Linked DNA regions of Homo sapiens. The protein of the gene in region 1 purifies or fractionates together with the protein of each later gene. This does not show direct contact. Each region holds a gene or a part of one and is shown on either strand. Other genes may lie near its edges. The genes, in order: PTF1A and RBPJL.

What was found.
Region 2: the proteins of PTF1A (region 1) and RBPJL purify together in Homo sapiens (affinity purification with western blotting, with the first as the bait; one study listed by BioGRID). This does not show direct contact.

Annotation. Positions count from the first base shown.
Region 1 is NC_000010.11:23,190,894-23,194,769, forward strand, and holds PTF1A (pancreas transcription factor 1 subunit alpha), read left to right. Parts: upstream 1-1,418; 5' UTR 1,419-1,637; coding exon 1,638-2,421; intron 2,422-2,810; coding exon 2,811-3,013; 3' UTR 3,014-3,352; downstream 3,353-3,876. UniProt on the Homo sapiens protein: Transcription factor implicated in the cell fate determination in various organs. Binds to the E-box consensus sequence 5'-CANNTG-3'. Plays a role in early and late pancreas development and differentiation.
Region 2 is NC_000020.11:45,313,209-45,317,017, reverse strand, and holds part of RBPJL (recombining binding protein suppressor of hairless-like protein), read right to left. Parts: intron 3,551-3,809; coding exon 3,413-3,550; intron 2,984-3,412; coding exon 2,874-2,983; intron 2,606-2,873; coding exon 2,453-2,605; intron 832-2,452; coding exon 676-831; intron 542-675; coding exon 438-541; coding exon of another isoform or gene 428-437; intron 333-427; coding exon 59-332; 3' UTR 1-58. UniProt on the Homo sapiens protein: Putative transcription factor, which cooperates with EBNA2 to activate transcription.

The DNA.
Region 1 (3,876 bases):
GCAATGTCTAAAACCAAGAAGCGTATTTAAATCACTAATCTGAAGAGGCATGACTTGGAATTTGAGAGGCGTCTGAATACCCAACAGAAGCCTCTAGTGAGACAAGTGCCTGAAAAAGGAAGCGGCCCAGGAGGACGACTCCTTTCAGTCCTCTGTAGAGAGAATACGCACGATGGCTGCGCTTCTGAACTCTCCCGGGGTGGAAGCTGCAGCCTGGCTTTTAACCGGAATTGCCCAGACCTTGAAAGTGTTTCTTTGTTGCTCTTAAAAAGAGGAATTCACGTTGCATCGCAGTCTGTGATAAAGTCTGTCTTGGGGCAGAGCTGCATACGTTTTGTGTTTTTTTTTTTTTTCAGAAAAGAAAGGTCGAGAAAGAAAAAAACAAGTCATTCAGGGATGGTCCCTGTGGCCAGTCGGAAAGGTGAGAGACTCGGGCTTTGAAAACGATTCACATTCTGCCCTTTAACTTCAATGCCTTCCCTCCGGACTGCGCCGGAGCAGACGATTCAATGGACTCCTTTTGTATCCAGTTTATTGCTCAGAATCCCTAGGGTCTAGATTTGCTCTCAGAAGAAACGCGCCCCGCTGAGCTGCTCTGGGGGCTGCCCCTCCCGTCTCCCCATTCCTTTCTCCGGGCCGGGGAGGGCAGGGGAGGCAGCCACTGAGCCGATGTCGCTGGGGACCCGCACCAGGCACCACAGCCAGGCTCCAGAGCGGAGTCCCATAGGTGCGCTCCCAGCCCCCGTGTTGCGTCTGGAACGCAGTGGGAGTGGGCCCGGATCACCTTCCAATGACACCCGCATATACTCTGCAAACTGTGCAAAAGCCCTTGAAAAGTCCAGAGATGGGACAGAAGCCCCCAGCAGAACCCAGGCCGGAGCCCCGCGCACCTCGGATAAGGGGGTGGCGGAATGCACCCACCTGGTCCCTGAGGGCAGCACCCTTAGATTGCCCAGGCTGCCGCGGAGGAGGACGATCGCCGCGCGGGCTCCGCTCTCGCCGTCTGGGCCACCGGCGCGCACCCCTAGGAACTTCTCTGGCCGCGTGTAGACGCGGCGCGCGGCTGCCCCAGTCCCAGGGCGGAAGGAGCCGGCGCTGCTCAGCGCGCGCGGGTACGCAGCGGGCACCGCGGGACGCAGGTGCCCCTGGAGCCGCACGCGGGGCAGGTACAGAATCCAGTATGCAGAGGCAGAGGAGAGGGAAGAGAGCGGTGCGAGGAGCCCCGGGCCGCGCGACCCCGCCTTTTCCTCGCCCCAGGAGCTCCCAAAGGGAGCAAAACGCCCCCCACCCCCGCCCACCGCCGCGCCTCCGGGCCCCCTCGCCGCCGGCACACCGCGCTCTGATTGGCTGGCGCGATGGGTCCCTGGCACGCGCCTATGGATGTTGTTATAAGAATCCTCGCGTGCCGGCCCTCAGCTCCAGGAAGTCCGCCACAGCCCTCCCCAGCGCAGCGCGAGCGCGGGCCAGAGCGCAGCGGCCGCGGGCACTCCAGGGAGGCCCGGGGGCGGGCAGCCCGGCGGCCGCCTAGCTGCCCCCAGCCAGGGCCCCGGGAGGGAGGGGCTCGGACGGGCCTTAGAAACTCACCAAGAACTAACACGCGCAGCCCGGCAGTCCCGCTGCCCACTGCGGCGGCGAGCATGGACGCGGTGTTGCTGGAGCACTTCCCCGGGGGCCTAGACGCCTTTCCTTCTTCGTACTTCGACGAGGACGACTTCTTCACCGACCAGTCTTCACGGGACCCCCTGGAGGACGGCGATGAGCTGCTGGCGGACGAGCAGGCCGAGGTGGAGTTCCTTAGCCACCAGCTCCACGAGTACTGCTACCGCGACGGGGCGTGCCTGCTGCTGCAGCCCGCGCCCCCGGCCGCCCCGCTAGCGCTCGCCCCGCCGTCCTCGGGGGGCCTCGGTGAGCCAGACGACGGCGGCGGCGGCGGCTACTGCTGCGAGACGGGGGCGCCCCCAGGCGGCTTCCCCTACTCGCCCGGCTCGCCGCCCTCGTGCCTGGCCTACCCGTGCGCCGGGGCGGCAGTACTGTCTCCCGGGGCGCGGCTGCGCGGCCTGAGCGGAGCGGCGGCTGCGGCGGCGCGGCGCCGGCGGCGGGTGCGCTCCGAGGCGGAGCTGCAGCAGCTGCGGCAGGCGGCCAACGTGCGCGAGCGGCGGCGCATGCAGTCCATCAACGACGCCTTCGAGGGGCTGCGCTCGCACATCCCCACGCTGCCCTACGAGAAGCGCCTCTCCAAGGTGGACACGCTGCGCCTGGCCATCGGCTACATCAACTTCCTCAGCGAGCTCGTGCAGGCCGACCTGCCCTTGCGCGGCGGTGGCGCGGGCGGCTGCGGGGGGCCGGGCGGCGGCGGGCGCCTGGGCGGGGACAGCCCGGGCAGCCAGGCCCAGAAGGTCATCATCTGCCATCGGGGCACCCGTAAGTGCTTCCGCTTCCCAGCTCAGGGAGAAGGGGTCGGGCACTCGAAGGCTCCGGAGGGGCTGGGGGAGCTGACTGCCAAGCAGACAGTCGGACCGACGGATTGTCGGTGGGCACGGAAAAACTTGAATGCGAGCTCGCGTTTCTCGTTTTTTTTTTTTTTTTTATTTTTCTGCCACGTTGACCGCGGCTCTCAAGGGCGCGCGTCCCCGCCAGACTTGCAGCTCCTCGGATTCCTGGGAGGGGACGGTGGGGACTTGAAGTGTGGAGGAAGAGGGTGGTTCTAGTATAACCGGAGAGCACCCAGGAAAGGGTCCTAAAGGACCTGATGGGACCAATGGGAATGTGGTTGGATATTCACAGTCTGTTTTCTCTTCTCACCTGTCCAGGGTCCCCCTCCCCCAGCGACCCTGATTATGGCCTCCCTCCCCTAGCAGGACACTCTCTCTCATGGACTGATGAAAAACAACTCAAGGAACAAAATATTATCCGAACAGCCAAAGTCTGGACCCCAGAGGACCCCAGAAAACTCAACAGCAAATCTTCCTTCAACAACATAGAAAACGAACCACCATTTGAGTTTGTGTCCTGAGAAGTCCCAGACTCGGCTGAAGATCTGATTATGTCTCTGTGCATATTGTACATGTAAATATCTATAATGTAAATGTAATTTAAGAATCAAATTTTTCGAATGGCAATCAACTGTTTATTATTTATCTATTTATTATCCTGTTGAGTTGATGAAATAGATGATTTCTTTTTAAATATATAATTTATATAACTTATCCTGATTTTCTGAAAATATGCAATAGCCTATGATTTTCCTGAACTCTGTGTTGTTGGGAGAACTCTGGCCAGAAAACGTCCTGCTTATTTATTGCCAGATATGGTTTATTTCTAAGCGTTGTCAATAAATGCTATTTACACCTTTTCCTGAAGGTTTTTGAGTACATGATTTGATAGATACTCTTTAAAAAGAATTAACTTAGTAAAAATTAACCAAACCAGAGACTCAAAGTGTAGCTTTTTAGTAAGAAACTACATTTCAGACTTAGCCTAAAGGTGGGTAGGTTAGAGGATTAGACCTCAACTTTCTATGACAGCACTTCATCTAGGTCGCCTGCCCTACACAGCAACTTTTGTCTGTATTTTGGGCCACCTTCCAAACACCCTATGCAAATACATCCTGGAGTATTTATTGTTCCCATTTTGCAGATGGTAAAGTTAAGGCTCAGAGATGACATTTGACTTACCCAAGGTCACCCCTACGTTGTCTATTCCTGGTGTATAAAAGTGAGCGCGCGGTGCACTGTGGGAGCAGGGAGCTAGTGGGCTAAGCGAATGGGCCTTTCTGCTTCCACTGGCTGGGAAAGGGGCTACTCTTGAGCTGCCCTGTGACCAACCTCTTCGGCAGCAACAGCATCAGGTACCTGGAACTCAGGCTTACTCCTCACA
Region 2 (3,809 bases), on another chromosome or scaffold:
CCCGCGCCTGGCGCGGGCGCAGCCCTCCAGGGTGGGCAGCCGGGGCTACCGGGCGCGCCTAAGTCTGGATGAAGAGGTGGAAGTTGGTGCGCGTGAACTCCTGATGGATGCTCTCCAGGAGCGCGTCGGCGTCGGTGGCGGGCTCGGGGACGCCGGGGTGACCCGGCCGCACGCTGTATTCCGGGGTGTAGGTGAAGGAGAAGGCACTAGGGTAGAAGAGCCCGTCGGCGCGCACCAGGCTCATGGGGATTGTGATGGGAGCGCGCAGCCAGCGCCAGTCGCTGCAGAAGGCCGCCACGTCCGGCACCACGCACACCAGGGACCGCGGGCTCCTGGGGGTGGAGCACCAGGGTGAGGGCTGCGGCGACTCCGACGACGCGTGCACCCCCTTCCCCTGCTCCCCGGGGCCCAAGAGAGGCTGCCTCACCACCCCGTACCTGTACATGGTTTCTGCCTCCACGTCCCCAAACCACACCTTGAGCCCCGCGTGGAAGTTCTCTCCGTGGAGCTCCAGCGTGGCCACGTCGCCCCCGCCGCTCAGCTGGGGGAGGGTGGGACCAGGTGAGGTGAGAGAACCAAGTAGGGCGGGAACCCGCTGCCCCCCACTCACTAGCACCACCACTGCCCAGTGCAGGCAGGGTCCCCCTGCCCAACGCCCCTAGCGCCCGGCTTCACCTCTAGGGTGCTGATGAGAGGCACCGGAGTGACCGGCTCCAGGGTACACGCCAGGCTGGTGCTGAAGGAAAATTCCACCGACTCGGTGCCGATGATGGTCCAGCAAGAGCTGTCGTTAAGCAGAGCCCTGTTCGCCTCCTTGGGGCAGGGAGAGGCCTGGGAGGAGACCCAAGGGGACGAGGCCGAAGCTTCTCATGGTGGCCACCAGTGTAGGGAGCCAGCATGGCGCGTGGGCTTCTGCGTTAGACCGAACTGGATACTAATCCTAGGCTCTGGGGTTCACTTGTCCCCTCAGCTTGGACAGTGCCCTTAAGTTCTCTCACTTAGCGTTAAGAAAGCTTGTTGAGCTAGCTGATTTCTTCTTTCTTCTTTCTTCTTTCTTTTTTCTTTATTTTCCTTCCTTCCTTCCTTTTCTTTTTCTTTCCCTTTCTCTCTCTTTTTTCCTTTCTTTCTTTTTCTTTCTTTCCTTCCTTCCTTTTCTTTCTTTCCCTTTCTCTTTTTCTTTTCTTTCTCTTTCTTTTCTTTCTTTCTTTCTTTTTCTTTCTCTCTCTCTCTTTCTCTCTTCTTCCTTCCTTCCTTCCTTTCTTCCTTTTTTTTTTTTTGAGACTGAATCTCGCTCTGTCGCCCAGGCTGGAGTGCAATGGCCTGATCTTGGCTCATTGCAACCTCCGCCTCCCGGGTTCAAATGATTCTCCTGCCTCAGGCGCCCGGGTAGCTGGGATTACAGGTGCCAGCCACCACGCCCAAATAATTTTTTTGTATTTTTAGTAGAGACAGGGTTTCACCATGTTGGCCAGGCTGGTCTCAAACTCCTGGCCTCGTGATCCTCCTGCCTCAGCCTCCCAAAGTATTGTGACTACAGGCATGAGCCATTGGCCCGGCCTGGGATAGCTGATTTCTAAGGGTCTTTTTTCTTGGGATTCCAGAATTTTTTTTTTTTTAACATTGTGCAATTCTATGCTCTAATAATCTACAATTTTAATATTCTTTGGGAAGGAATATTCTTGGGGAAGGAATAATACTTGCTATTTTCCACATATTATAATTCTATCTCGTAACATTCTATGATAATATTCTTTTGGGAGTACTACTGCTTAACGATAATTATTATTTTCCACATTCTATAATTTTCCACATTCTGTGTCTTTATCTGTGCTTCGAATAGTCTTTGCTCATTAATTCTCTGCTCTCTATTACCTATCATGATTTTTATTTACATCCTACAATTTTATATCCCAATTTATTTACTTACTTTTTTTGAGATGGAGTCTTGCTCTTGTCACCCAGGCTGGAGTGCAATGGTGTGATCCTGGCTCACTGCAACCTCCACCTCTCAGGTTCAAGCAATTCTCCTGCCTCAGCCTCCTGAGTAGCTGAGATTACAGGCGCCCACTGCCATGCCCAGCTAATTTTTGTATTTTTAGTAGAGATGGGATTTCACCATGTTGGCCAGTCTAGTCTCGAACTCCTGACCTCAGGTGTTCTGCCCACCTCAGCCTCGCAAAGTGCTGGGATTACAGGCATGAGCCACCGCACCTGGCTATATCCCAATATTTTATGACTCTAAAATTCTTTGGGAAGGAATATTGCTTCATACTATTACTTATTACTATTTTTCTACATCCTATGATTCTGTCCTGGGAGTCTATGATTTTAATGTTCCATGGGAGGCTGCTCAGGAAGTAGCAACCATGGTGAGGGTGATGATCTTACATTCTGTGGTTCTCTGCATTCTCCCTTTCCAGGACACTTGGTGCTGGTATTCTCTGCTTCTTACCTGAAATTGCACCACCTTCTCTGTGGCAAGGCATAAGTAGGTGCCACCCCCTCCTGGGGGACTGCCTGGAAACTGGAATGCACACTTGTGCAGCTGGGAGATGGGCTCATCCACATCAAGGAGCGCACACTGTTTTGCTACTTTACGGATGATCTGCAATGGAAGGATGGTAAGAACAGTGGTGGCAAGGAGCCCGGGCGTCCAGAGGCTGCCCTCCTAGCCGGCTGTCTGCTACTCCAATAGCCACACAGGCACTAGCAGATTCCCCCTGCCCTTTGACTTCTGTCTGGTCCTACGCGACACTGGGTGAGAACAGGTGTCTCCATGCCTTGGGGCCTCACTCTCCAGCCCTGCCCGTGTGTGCCACATTCTCTGCATGGATCTGAGGGGACCCCTCCAGGCATGCCCTCCCTTCCTATACCATGGGAGGTAGTGTGATGCCGGTGACCGTGCAGACGAGCTGCACCAGGGAGCCATAGCGAACGTAGCCCTCTCGCGGTGGGAAGTCTCCTTGGGCAGAGTGCCCATCAGCTGGGGGACAAAAAAAGCAAGGGACAAGGTTTTCAGCGGCCCCCAAGCTTCTGCCTTAAACCCTGCCTTGTTGCCTCTGGCTCTTCCTCACATCACACATGGGCCCTGCGGGAAAGCTTGGTACTCAGGGGAGCCAACTGAAGGTTCTAATTCTGGAGAGGCCATTTGAGGCCATCCTCACAAATGTCTGCCCTGGGGGCAGGGGTTGGGGGCAGGCAGCTTAGTTGATATATGGGGAAAGGGCATGGATAAGGGAGTCAGAATAGCTTGGAACAGTCACCAGCTCACTGGGACTGTAGTCAAGTCTTTTTGTGTTTCTGAGCCTTAATCACATGGGGCAGAGTTTACCTTCCTTAAGGAGTTGTGGTGGAGGTTAAATAAGCTAATGCATGTGAAGTGCCCAGCTCCAGGGCCTGCAGATGTCATTACCCAGGTGGAGCGTGAAGGCAGCCCACTGTCGTGCACTGGCCACAAAGGCCCCATCCTCCACAGAGAGGTAGCGTGTGGAGACCGTCTGAGAGCGCAGGCGGTTGAAGAGGGAGACCTTTGAGCCGGAGGATATGCACACTGTGAGGGTGAGGGTCAGGGTTAGGGTGAGGGTGAGGGTCAGGGTTAGGGTGAGGGGATAGGGTTAGGGTTAGGATTGGGGTTAGGGTTAGGGTGAGGGTTAGGGTGAGGGTGAGGGTTAGGATTAGGGTGAGGGTTAGAGTGAGGGTGAGGGTAAGGATTAGGATTAGGGTGAGGGTTAGGGTGAGGGAGGGGGTCAGGGTGAGGGTTAAGGTTAGTTGGTGCTATCAGTGCCCTGTCCTGGCTTGGTTCCTTGGAC